3 separate regions of the Homo sapiens genome follow, and regions 1 and 2 are each linked to region 3. The links come from fine-mapping of genetic effects on gene expression. A gene starts in region 3. Each other region holds a variant in brackets. All regions are shown on one strand. Distances are between the middles of the regions. Region 1 overlaps LOC124904413 (a long non-coding RNA gene). Region 2 overlaps LINC02988 (long intergenic non-protein coding RNA 2988). Region 3 holds the start of PLEKHO1 (pleckstrin homology domain containing O1).

The links. PIP is the estimated chance that this variant, and not a neighbour inherited with it, causes the effect.
Region 1: its variant is the best candidate, but not a certain one, in a credible set for the expression of PLEKHO1 in whole blood (INTERVAL, PIP 0.71).
Region 2: its variant is the best candidate, but not a certain one, in a credible set for the expression of PLEKHO1 in whole blood (INTERVAL, PIP 0.83).

Annotation. Positions count from the first base shown.
Region 1 is chr1:150,027,268-150,031,507 of GRCh38, forward strand. All of the region lies in intron 1 of LOC124904413 (a long non-coding RNA gene), which reads left to right. It also overlaps a transcript of OTUD7B not described here. Among named protein-coding and RNA genes, the nearest start is that of OTUD7B, 19 kb to the left of the region's middle. The variant A/C (reference allele first, on the strand shown) is at 2,253.
Region 2 is chr1:150,174,524-150,178,763 of GRCh38, forward strand. All of the region lies in intron 3 of LINC02988 (long intergenic non-protein coding RNA 2988), which reads left to right. Among named protein-coding and RNA genes, the nearest start is that of LINC02988, 16 kb to the left of the region's middle. The variant G/A (reference allele first, on the strand shown) is at 2,267.
Region 3 is chr1:150,147,619-150,151,858 of GRCh38, forward strand. PLEKHO1 (pleckstrin homology domain containing O1) reads left to right here and starts at 2,298. Exons shown (of 6, transcript NM_016274.6): 1 at 2,298-2,669; 2 at 3,294-3,440. The coding sequence starts at 2,640. RefSeq lists silencers at 1,926-2,385, 2,526-2,605 and an enhancer at 2,238-2,738.

The DNA.
Region 1 (4,240 bases), 120 kb before region 3:
AATAATTATAATACCATGCAGAAATATAAAAGGTAAAGCCGGGCACAGTGGCTCACACCTGTAATCCCAGCACTTTGGGAGGCTGAGGTGGGTGGATCACCTGACGTTAGGAGTTTGAGACCAGCCTGGCCAACGTGGTGACATCCCGTCTCTACTAAAACTACAAAAAATTAGCTGGGCATGGTAGTGCACACCTGTAGTCCCAGCTACTTGAGAGGCTGAGGCAGGAGAATCGGTTGAACCTAGAAGGCAGAGGCTACACTGAGCTGAGATCAGGCCGCTGCACTCCAACCTAGGCAACAGAGTGAGACTCCATCTCAAAAAATAAATAAATAAGTAAATAAGATAATCAATGGCACAAAAGCAGAAGTGATCAACTTGACATTTCTAACTTCATCTGCCAAAGAAGATTTCTTATAATAATCTGCTAGTGTCCTTTAGTGCTAAAAGGATAACTGCTAAAAAAAAAAAGTGTATTTTCTTAAAATTCCAAATTGGAAATATTTCTTTTCTTTATTATTTCCCTATGAAATAATTATATTCTATTCTATTTTATCCTGAGAGATTTTAAGTAGAATAATTAAAAAACTGACTAATTTGGTGAGTTCAAAATATTGAGATGATTAATTAGTCAAGACCATATGAATTTCTCAGACATTTTTAATACAAGGAAAAAATACAATTAAAAAAGCTTTCTGAAGTATCCAAAATAACATATCACTATCTGAATCACAAAACCATAATTTTAGGCTGAATTCCCTTAAATAGGAAAATTAACTTTTTAGATAGTAGGTGGTATTCAATAATACTTATGTTTTCACTAGATCATCTGTACATAACTATTTTTCTCAAAAGAGTTATTTATTTAAATCAAACAGGTTTGACAAGGCTCTAGGATGCAGTTGTCAATAGTATCCTTAACACAACAGATACCATGAAGCCAAACACATAGAGCCAAGCAAGCATTAACAAGTTCTGTAGAGCCCAGCTCAAGCTAAAGTGATCATTGGATTCAATACAATCAAGATCATTTGGCCTAATAAAAGGTTCGGGATTCTCAAGAGAACCTGGGCAAAGCCAAATTAAGAGAAAAGGCAATGTGAAAGAAAAATTAAACACTTCACTGTGGGTTTTTTTTCCATTTTTTTTAATTGTGGTAAAATACACATAATACAAATGTACTACAGTATCTTAGCCATTTTTAAGTACCATATACAGTTCAATGGTATTAAGCACATCAATATTGTTGTGCAATCATGACCACCATCCAACTCCAGAATTCTTTTCACTTTGCAAAACTGAAACACTATATTCATTAAACAATAAGTCTCCATTCTCCCTGTTCCCCCTAACCCTTGGCAACCACCATTCTACTTTCTGTCTCTATATTTTTTATTGCTTTATGTACTTTGTGCTTTTTGAGACAGGGTTTCGCTCTTGTTGCCCAGGCTGGAGTGCAATGGCACAGTCTCAGCTCACTGCAACCTCCGCCTCCCAGGTTCAAGCGATTCTCCTGCCTCAGCCTCCCAAGAAGCTGGGATTACAGGCGTGAGCCACCACGCCTGGTTGCTCTAGGTACTTTGAATAAGTGAAATCATACATATAGTATTTGTCTTTTTTTGTGACTGGCTTATTTTACCTAGCATAATGTCCTCAAGGTTCATCCATATTGTAGCATATGTCAGAATTTCCTTCCTTTTTAAGGCTGAATAATATTCCATTGTGTATATATAGCATATTTTATCAATTCATATGCTGATGAACATTTGGTGAACTGTACTGTTTTTATGAATTACAATTATATATTAATAATCTCTAGTATCGGCTATATTCAATAAATATACTAGAAAAATAGTTGAATTGATGGTGAGTTAGGAAATTCAGTTTTGTTTCCAAATCTCAAAAGATACCAGAGAGAATATATTTATCTATACAGTTAATTAGATGAATAATTTTTGTCAAAATTGTTATAAGTTTAATAGGAAAGTTTCAGTGATAAAACAACAATCCCTACTGTGGTATGTTGACAGAAGGACCCATCCACCCACAAACTGTTGCTTGATTAAACCCATTGTCCAGGGTTCTGATATCAGCAGGCTATGGAACACCAACAATTCTATCTATATTTGAATTGTGATTCAAGCGAGGTCATTCTTGATACTTAGAAGACTTATGTTTGGCACATAAGTAACTATAGTAAGTAACTGCATTTATGACCCTATTGCTTAAGGATGCTTTAGATTTCTAGAAGC[A/C]ATAGCTCAAGAATGAACTTACTGGAGGGTCCAAGAGAAGTTTCAACAATTTAGCCCAAAGAAAGCTCAAGGAAAGCGTTTATTTGCCACTGTCTCCAGTAGAGGTTGTTCATTCTCTCAGAGTCCACAGTCTCCAGGACAAGCAATTTGGTGGTTGCATTCTCTTGGCTTCCCATTTTTCATATAAGAAACAGAGGATCCAAAATATTTCAGTAACTCACCCTAGGTCATATAGCAGGGAAGGTGCAATGGGTTCTCCAAAGATGCTGTCGTCTCTGAAATCTTAAAAGTCCAGTAATCCACAACCTATACAAATCTCCTATCCCTCCATCTGTTTACCCCTCATACTCTCCACACCCCTCTTTTAGCACCACAGCCAGCTCAAGTTCTAGATATCTTCATTTTCTCTGAGTCTATCTAGAAGAGCCCAGGTCCCATAGTCAAACTGTTCATGCACTGGTTCTCTCTTGTCCTTACATACATAATTCATGAACTCCTAATGTTGGATCAGTCAAACTGATTTCTCTGCTACTGCATTCTAAGTACAGCTGGGGAAAATTACACCTGTGGATTGATAACAATACAAATTTTTAAATATCAAATTTAAGTTAGAAAACGCTTCTCTCATTCCTTCAGTCACGATTCTAAACTTTAACCACCATCTTCCTTTATGACCATCACCTTGCTCCTTCTCAAAAGATGACCTAATCTCCCAGTTCACTTAGAAAATTGAGGCCTTGGTGTGGATGGGAAGGAATTTCCTTACCCTCCAGGCCCTACATTTATAAGGCTGTTTACAGCTGAATCTATCCTTATCTCACACAAGTTTCTGAACAAAAACCCTTCCCTCTAGCGTAGAGGAAATGCCCCTTCGAAATGCCCCTTCTGTTCAAGGTTAACATTCCCCGTTATTGTTCATAGTTTTATCCCCTTCTGCTTCCTCAGGGAATTTGTGCCATTAATGTTTCATTTATCTTCTATATTTTCCATTTCTCTTTCTCTCCTGGATTCCTCCCTACAGCCCACAGCACCCTCATTTTAAAACAAATAAAGCAAAAGTCAGCTTCATAAAACATTCGTTGGAACCTGTGTCTCCTTTAAACTGCTGAGCTTCCTCACAAATGAGCTTCTTGAAATGTACACCAAATCTCTCCTCTCTACTTCCTCAACTCCCATTTGCTCTTCAAACCACTTGAATTGGGCTTCCATTTCCACCAGTTCACTGAAACTGTTCTAGCAAATGTCTGTAGCAGCTGTACTTGTCACCCTTTCATGATTACTATTGTTTACCTATGTGTTCTGTTTTGTCATTGAATATAGCTTTGAATTTTTGTCTGTGCAGTTACTGCACAGTTTTTCTTGTTTTTGTTTTTTGAGAGACTTTTGCTCTTGTCACCCAGGCCCGCCACCACACTGGCTAATTTTGTATTTTTAGTAGAGACAGGGTTTCACCATGTTGGCTGGGCTGGGTCCTCGAACTCCTGACCTCAGGTGATTCACCTGCCTTGGCCTCTCAAAGTATTGGGATTACAGGCATGAGCCATGGCACCTGGCCTCTATTTTTTATTTTTATTTTTATCCCCTTATCTGATTTTTCATTGTATTCTTGATTGTGCCCAGCAAGAAGAAATCTAACGAATATTTGTTAAATAAATTAAAGAAAAATTTAAGTAACATGAAAGAGCACGATGCCACCATATTTTAGATGAGGCACAAGGCTAGGCCTAAACAAAACTTTTCTCTGGTGACAACTACCTGCATTATACTCCTCATTAACCTCATCTTGCTGTTTCTGGCTCAGTGCTCTTCTGCTGTCCCACAGAGCCTGTTACTTTCCCTTCTACTGCCATAAAATTTACCTGTCCTATTTTTTATTTCCTCAGGGTCTAAGATTTCAGCCAGCAAGTCAGACAAACTAATTTTCATTAATAGAGAACAGTAATTGGAGAAGCCAAAAGAAGCACATGCCTAGGCAATAAATGTGCATT
Region 2 (4,240 bases), 27 kb after region 3:
ACTGTCATCAAAAACATTTATTAAGTCTCCAAATTGCAAAGTATGTTTTGTTTTTGTAACTGTTTATTTACCTTTCTCCCAACTAGATGGTGAGCAGTTTACACAGGTGCTCAACAAATGTATTTTAATGAATGTCTACAAGAGGTTAACTAATTTGAATTTTTAAAAAAAATTACCCGAGGTGGGCGGATCACGAGGTCAGGAGATCGAGACCATCCTGGCTAACACGGTGAAACCCTGTCTCTACTAAAAATACAAAAAATTAGCCGGGAGAGGTGGCGGGCACCTGTAGTCCCAGCTACTCGGGAGGCTGAGGCAGGAGAATGGCGTAAACCCCGGGGGACAGAGCCTGCAGTGAGCCGAGATCGTGGCACTGCACTCCAGCCTGGGCGACAGCGAGACTCCATCTCAAAAAAAAAAAAAATTACACAGCACAATAGAAGCATAATAAAAGTATAACAACAATAATGAACCTATAAGAAGGCATTGAAGTTGCTGCCCAGAAAGTCAGTTTCCCGTTCCAGCTCTGCTCCTTGGTTGTTTGACATTGGGCAGGTCTCAATTCTCACATCTATTTCCTCATCTGAAAAACAGAATAACTCATGTTTGCTCTACTTACCCAGGAGGCTACTGTAAGAATCAAATGAATCCATCAATTTTAAGGTGTTTTACAAACGATGAAGTATTTTGCTGATGTTATTATTTCTTTTTGTTGTTGCTGTTTTGAGACGGAGTCTCACTCTGTCACCCAGGCTGGAGTGCCGTGGTGCCATCTCAGCTCACTGCAACCTCTGCCTCCCAGGCTGAAATGATTATCCTGCCTCAGCCTCCCAAGTAGCTGGAACTACAGGCACCCACCACCATACCCAGCTAATTTGTGTGTTTTTAGTAGAGACAGGGTTTCGCCATGTTGTCCAGACTGGCCTCGAACTCCTGGCCTCAGGTGATCCACCTACCTCGGCCTCCCAAAGTGCTGAGATTACAGGTGTGACCCACCGCGCCCGGCCTGCTGATGTTATTATTTCAACAGAAAAATTATTTTAGAAGTGGCATGCATTTTACTAGGATGCAAAACATGATTGGGGAAACAGACTCAAGAATTCTAAACCTAGGCAGATTGAGGTCAGGGAAGGTACCTCTCATCTCTTTAGTCTTGAAGTAGTCTAGAAGTAATCTACTCCTGGTCTCTGCTGTTTATTATTTGTCTTCTTTGAGCTTCAGTTTCTTTTTTTTTCTTTTTTTTTTTTTGTAGACAAGAGTCTTACTCCGTTGCCCAGGCCAGAGTGCAATGGCACGATCTCGGCTCACTGCAACCTCCACCTCCTAGGTTGAAGCGATTTTTCTGCCTCAGCCTCCTGAGTAGCTGGGATTACAGGCACCTGCCACCATGCCCGGCTAATTTTTGTATTTTTACTAGAGACGGGGTTTCACCATGTTGGCCAGGCTGCTCTCGAACTTCTGACCTCAGGTGATCCACCCATCTCAGCCTCCCAAAGTGCTGGGATTACAGACATGAGACATGGCACCTGGATCTTTTTTTTTTTTTGAGACAAGGTCTCACTCTCGCCCAGGCTGGAGTGCAGTGGTGCGATCTCAGCTCACTGCAGTCTCCGCCTCCTGGGCTCAAGGAATTCTCATGCCTCAGCCTCATGAGTAGCTGGGATTACATGCGTGTGCCACCACACCTGACTAACTTTCATATTTTTGGTAGAGACGGGGTTTCACCATGTTGGCCAGGATGGTCTTGAACTCCTGACCTCAAGTGATCCTCCCACCTTGGCCTCCCAAAATGCTGGGATTACAGGTGTGAGCCACTGTGCCCGGCCCTCAGTTTCTTTATATCATTCTCTCTGAGCCTCGTTTATGTTATATGTAACATGGTGATAAAATGTGCCTTGCCCCAGAAGGTTTGCTAGGGGGTTCAAATTAGATGATTGTTGCTAAGGTCTCTGTGACAGCTATAAAGTACTATACAAATGTAAAAAAATCTTGTATGAATTACCTGAAGGTGATGAGCTTTCAGAGACAGTTTCAGTAAAGCACACAGGCTGAGAGTATGGGAGGCTAACATTGGCAGTCACATCCCAGGAAAGAATAGAACATTTTGGTATCTATTATCTTGGGTTGGATTACACATTGCCTTAGGAACTCCATTGTGACAAGGCCTTGCAAAAAAGTAAAATGAAACATAGGCCCTTTCACATACATTGGCTCAATAAATCTTCCCAACACTGTGCCAAGTGGGAATTATGATGCCCATTTGACT[G/A]ATGGGGAACTGAAGCTTGGAGATGTTGAAACATACCCAAGATTATGCAACTGGCAGATGGCTGCATCAAAACAAATTTCTCCAACTCCAGCAGAAAAGTTAAGAGCATGCTTACATGAAAAGGAAGAGCTGGCCGGGCGCGTGGCTCACACCTGTAATCCCAACACTTTGGGAGGCTGAGGCAGGTGGATCACCTGAAGTCAGGAGCTTGAGACCAGCCTGACCAACATGGAGAAACCCCATCTCTACTAAAAATACAAAAAAAGAAAAAATTATCTGGGCGTGGTGTTGCATGCCTGTAACTCGGGAGGCTGAGGCAGGAGAATCATTTGAACCCAGGAGGCAGTGGTTGCTGTGAGCCGAGATCAGACCGTTGCACTCCAGCCTGGGCAACAAGAATGAAACTCCGTCTCAAAAAAAAAAAAAAAAAAAAAAAAGAAAAGGAAGAGCTAGTCGGGGGTGGCCTTAAACAAATGGCCCATTTCTCATTCCTCCCTGACACAACTTTCTACCCAAGCCAGCAAACATTTTCTTTCACAAATACTTCTTTTCTCTTTTTTTTTTTTTTTTTGTTAGACGGAGTCTCACTCTGTCACCCAGGCTGGAGTGTAGTGGCACAATCTCAGTTCACTGTAACCTCCACCTCCCTGGTTCCAGCAATTCTCCTGCCTCAGCCTCCCAAGTAGCTGGGTTTATAGGTGCATGCCACCGTGCCCGGCTAATTTTTGTATTTTTAGTAGAGACAGCGTTTCACCAAGTTGGCCAGGCTGGTCTCAAACTCCTGACCTTGTGATCCACCTGCCTCGGCCTCCCAACATTCTGGGATTACAGGCATAAGCCACCGCGCCCGGCCAGTACTTCATATTTCTTACTATGGCTGGGGTTCCCAGAGAAACAACTATGACAACAGGTGGATTTAGGATACAACAGGGTGACGTCTGTGCACGGGCAGGAAGGCATTTTTACTGGAGCGGAGTATGATCAATGTTCACAGCTGTGGCAGCCTGCTCCCCTGAAAGATCTTTAATTGGAGAAGAAGTGGCTATAGCCAGCTTCACTCTGACCCTGTTAGAAATGCCCAGTTCTTAAGTCACATCCCAATTCTACACATAGACTCAAGGGTTTGCAGAAACACCCACTACTCTCCCACCTCCCTCCTCATAAATATGTTCATCCTATGGCCTAGGCGAGTCAAGAGTAGTCCGTCAGACACAAAGACACTAGTGGTCCCTATTTATGTATAAATCTTTTTCACCACCTAGAATTCTTCCTTCATTATTTTGTGTCTCTTCCCTTATTTAAAAGCTAATTTTAAAAAATCTAACTCAAATATCAAAAATTAGAAACAGCCCCAATGTACATCAATTTGGAGACCAATTTGGCTGGACTCACACCTGTAATCCTAGCACTTTGGGAGGCTGAGACAGGTGGATCGCTTGAGCCCAGGAGTTTGAAACCAGCCTGAGCAACAGGGTGAAACTCCGACTCTAAAAAGAAATACAAAGATTAGCTGGGTGTGTTGGCACACACCTGTAGTCTCAGCTAATCAGGAGGCTGAAGTGGGAGGATACTTTGACCTCAGGAGGCAGAGGTTGCAGTGAGCCGAGATCACGCCACTGCACTCCAGCCTGAGAAATACAGCGAGACCCTGTCTCAAAAAAAAAAAAAAAAAAAAGGAGACTAGTTTAAATAAATAATGAGAGCACACATTCAAACAATGGACTATTAAAAGAACAAAGTAGACAGGACATGGTGGCTCACACCTGTAATCCCAGTGCTCTGGGAGGCCAATGCAGGAGGATCACTTGAGGCCAGGGTTTGAGACCAGCCTGGGCAACATAGGGAGAGCCCATCTCTATAAAAAATTTAAAAATTAGATGGGCATGGTGGCACACTCCTGTAGTTATAGCTACTTGGAGGCAGGAGCAGGAGGAAGTCTGGGGTTACAGTGAGCTATGATTGCACCACTGCAAT
Region 3 (4,240 bases):
GCTCACTGCAACCTCTGCCTCCCAGGTTCGAGCTATTCTCCTGCCTCAGCCTCCCAAGTAGCTGGGATTACAGGCGTGTGCCACCACACCCAGCTAATTTTTTTTTGTATTTAGTAGATATGGGGTTTCGACATGTTGGTCAGGCTGGTCTTGAACTTCTGACCTCAAATGATCCACCCGCCTCGGCCTCCCAAAGTGCTGGGATTACAGGCGTGAGCCACCACACGCAGCCCAATATTTGTTGACTGATAGAAACTACTGGGAAAGGAGGAAGATGGGGCAAATGATGAATTACTTTTTTCCCATAAATCAGAATCTATTTAAATGATAACTCTAAACCACTCCTGTGTGTTTGTCCAGCAAGCCCTCAAAAAATCGTGCAGGCTATTTGCTCACCAGTACATTTGGACATTTTGCATCCTCACATATGAAGACACCCTGGATTTGCTCATTATTTTTTCATCGCTCTTTAAACAGGGGGTTAGAAAATAGAGACGGTGGAAAGGGGACAAGATGGTTTGGGGAACGTGGTGTGTGCACACTCATGCCCATGGGAGGGGGTTACAAAATCTGAAGAGGAGACTGCAGTCAGGAAGCCTGGATTCTAATCCATTTAGCCAGTAACTTGATGTATAAACTTGGGCAAGTCAGTTTATCTGGCATGCCCTGTTTCCTCATTTTCCAAATGGAAATATTAATACTCTATATACCTTACAAGGTGGCATTAAAAGTGTAAAGAAATGACATATAAGAGCATTTTGAAAGGATAAAGTTCTGTGTCAGTCTAAAATCGTGGAATTAATTGGTATGGTGAATGGAAAGAAGTTGAGAGGAATATCATTGGATTAGGAGGAAAGGTGGAACTGGAAAAGAGAGGGAGCCCCTCCTTCATTTGACAGACACCAGAAAAAGTCAAAAGAGCCTCCACTATTCAAACCACAAATCTAGCCAACACTTTTATCTTGAGACATCTCTGGAAAAATGATTTTTCCTTTTCCCTGCTCCTCAGTGCCAGGGATTTTTATTCATTTTGTGGTTACTGCATGCTTGCCATATGCCAGGCAATGTGTTTATTAGCTTATTATGATTTCAAAATTAGCCCTGGAAGACAACACATATCTTCAAAGGACTCTCAGAGGTCATCTCATATCTTCCCCTAGCTTTCCTTGTTGATAAAAATGGCAGTTCATCCCTCACCACTTAATACGTGGAGGGACGCGGGCCTAAAGAAATTCAGTGACTTGACCAAAGCCCAGAGTGGTGATGAAACCAGTACCCAAGCGCGGGGTTTCTCACTCCCCTTTTCCATCACACGTATATATATTAAAAAGACATGAAGTTACTAAGATGTGTCCTGGAGGCTCTGAGGCAGATCTGCTGTAGGAGGGATCAGCAGAGGCTTCTCTAGTCAGGGCATTCTCTGGGCGTTCAGCCCTTCCCTCCACTGGGCTCCAGCGCTGTAGAGAGGGTGGGGTTTTTACCTATCAGTATAGCGGGAAAAGATACCCAGGTGGCAGGAAGTTTAAGCCTCACCTGGAACTTATATTGAAAGCCACTTGGTAGAAAGGATAATGGTTTGGAGACAGAGTTCTATTCCTGCCAGCATTGACACTGTGTCTGAAAAGCCAGCATCGACACTGTGTCTGCAAATCCCTCAGCTATTCTGAGTCTCCGTTTTCTCCCTGTGAGATGGAGATCATAAAATCCGCCTCATCCTTAGGATTATTCTCCTGAAGCTACAATAAGGCCTGAGGCATTGTACGCTGGAAGAAACGTGTATTAATAGCAACTTCTGTCCCACCCCATCCCCCAACACGTCGATCCCCTCCGGAGCATAAAACTTTCCCCCAGCATCTGACCTGCCCAGGCCACCCTAGCACCTAGGAGCGTGAATTCCTGATGCGGGTTGTGGGTGGCGCGCCCTCCCGGTTCCCGCTCTCGTTTTTGTTTTTGGTCGGGTAAGGCGATGCTGTAGAGGCTGGCGATCTCCAGTCTTCACGAATCCGCACGTCTCTCCATTATCCACCGCGCCCGCCCACTGGGCCCCGGGGCGGCCGGCGGCCGGGTCTCTCGGGCTCCGCGTGTCGCCCGAGCCGCCGCCGGAGCGAGGGTCCCTGCCCCCTGGGGAGCGGTCTCCAGCCGCTTCGAAGCCGCCTTCTTCCCCCTCCGTGAGTCAGAAACAAAGGCGGGGGGGCGGGGGGAGCGCCCGAGCTGCGGCTCCGCGATTCGCCCTTTATTCTGAACTCGCAACGTCAGCGGCCCGCGGATGGAGCTGCGGGGTGCGGACTGGGCCGCCCACAGCGCACCGGGCCGGGGGAGCGGCCGCGCTGGGCCGGGCGGGCGGGTGGCGGGGGTGCGCTCGGGGACCCGGGCCGCGTGGGCGCCGGGATGGAGGGCGCCAAGGGGCGGGGAGCGGGCGTGCGTGTGTGTGCGAGTGCGAATGCGAGGGAGGCCGGCCTTGAGTGAAACCGGAGCTACAAAGAAGGGGAGAGTCCGGGAGCGGGAGGGCGCGAGGGAGGAGCGGCGGCGCCGGGGCAGCTCCGACGCCCTCCCGCGGGGAAGGAGCCCCCGCGGTGCCGCCGAGGCCCCGACGCGGGGCCGCCCCTCGGCTCGCCGCCCCGCGCCCGCGCCCGCTGGGAATGATGAAGAAGAACAATTCCGCCAAGCGGGTGAGTGCGCTTGCCCGCCCTGCGGCCGCCGCCGCCTCCGCGCTCTGACGACCCCCGCTCCGTCGGCGCCGCGGCGGCCTGGGAGACCCACGGCCCGGCCGCGCCCCCGCCCCGGCGGCCCGGTCCCCTCGGCCTCGGCCCCGCCAGGCGCCCGCGGGGGCTTTTGTTTGTTTACTCGCCTCGGGGGGCTTCAACTTGGCTGAGTTTCCCCACGACCCGCACCTCCCCCGCCCCCGGGCGCCGGGCGAGCGTTTGCCTCGCGCTCCGCCGTGGCGAGGAGACAATGGGAGAGAAAACCAGAGAAACGCCGTTAGTCCCCGCGCGGCGAGGACGGGGCGGCGGGGGCGCAGGGCCTGGAGGGAACCTGGGAGCCTCTCCGCGCCCGGCCGGCGCCCCTGCCACTTGCAGCCCCGGTTGTTTATTCGGGAGCGGGGGAGGGGAGCGGGGGGAGTTCCTCGGAGTGAAAACCTTTCCGAAGTGGGAGCGAACCTGGGGCGGCCCCCCGCCCCCCGGCCGCAGCCTTCGGAGGAGACTGGGCCGCCGAGGCGGTCGTGAGAGACGGACGGAGAGGAAGCGCCGGCTGGAATCTCCTAACCGCCCGCTTCTCATCTTGTCCTGGGGCAGGGACCTCAGGATGGAAACCAGCAGCCTGCACCGCCCGAGAAGGTCGGCTGGGTCCGGAAATTCTGCGGGAAAGGGATTTTCAGGGAGATTTGGAAAAACCGCTATGTGGTGCTGAAAGGGGACCAGCTCTACATCTCTGAGAAGGAGGTGGGTGCCTCTTGCCTCTAACTCTCCGTTTTCTCATAGCCCCCACTTTGTCACTCCCCAAGGGCTCGCCTAGCTTACTCCACCCCCGTTTTGTTCCAAAGGCAAGTTCAGTGGTCTCCTCTCTACCCCCATCTCATCTGCAGAGAAAGGCCACCCTTTAATGAGAAGACCAGAGTGAGAATTAGAAGTTGAGTTGGCCGCTTACTCAGTGTTTTTTTGTTTGCAAATACCTTTCTAACAACGATAAGCCCCTCCCAAGATGCCCCAGAAGTTCTAAGTGTCCCTTGCTGCCTCCCACCCTAACCTGGCCTCCTGCATATAGGATTTCTTTTCTATTTCTGCTGAAACAGTTTAGCCTATTCGCCACCCCTTCCTGTCCCCCCACCTTAACCCAGCCAGCCTCCCCTTTCCTGTCTGTGGCAGGAGCGTGCACAGGTCCTGTCCGTGGCGCATCCGCCCTGAATCACAGAAAACACGCACCCCGCCGTCAGGCCCCTGTGACCTCGGGTGTGTGAGTGGCAGTTATTTTCGTTGAAGCCAGTGTCCCTAACCAGTATGCTCTCTGTTCCCCACCCCCACCCCATTTAAAAAAGGCAAGGAACCCATTTTCTACCCACTTCCTGCCCACCCCTCCATTTGTATCAGAAGGGAGAGAAATGGAGTTAAGAACCCCTGTATGTCTTTGGATAGCTTTGGCTGTGTAGTTAACCATGAAAACCACAGTCTACACTGTGTCAAGACCTGAGCTATGATAATTGAATCCAGACCCATCTCCCTTTTTTCCCTAAGTCTTGGGATCA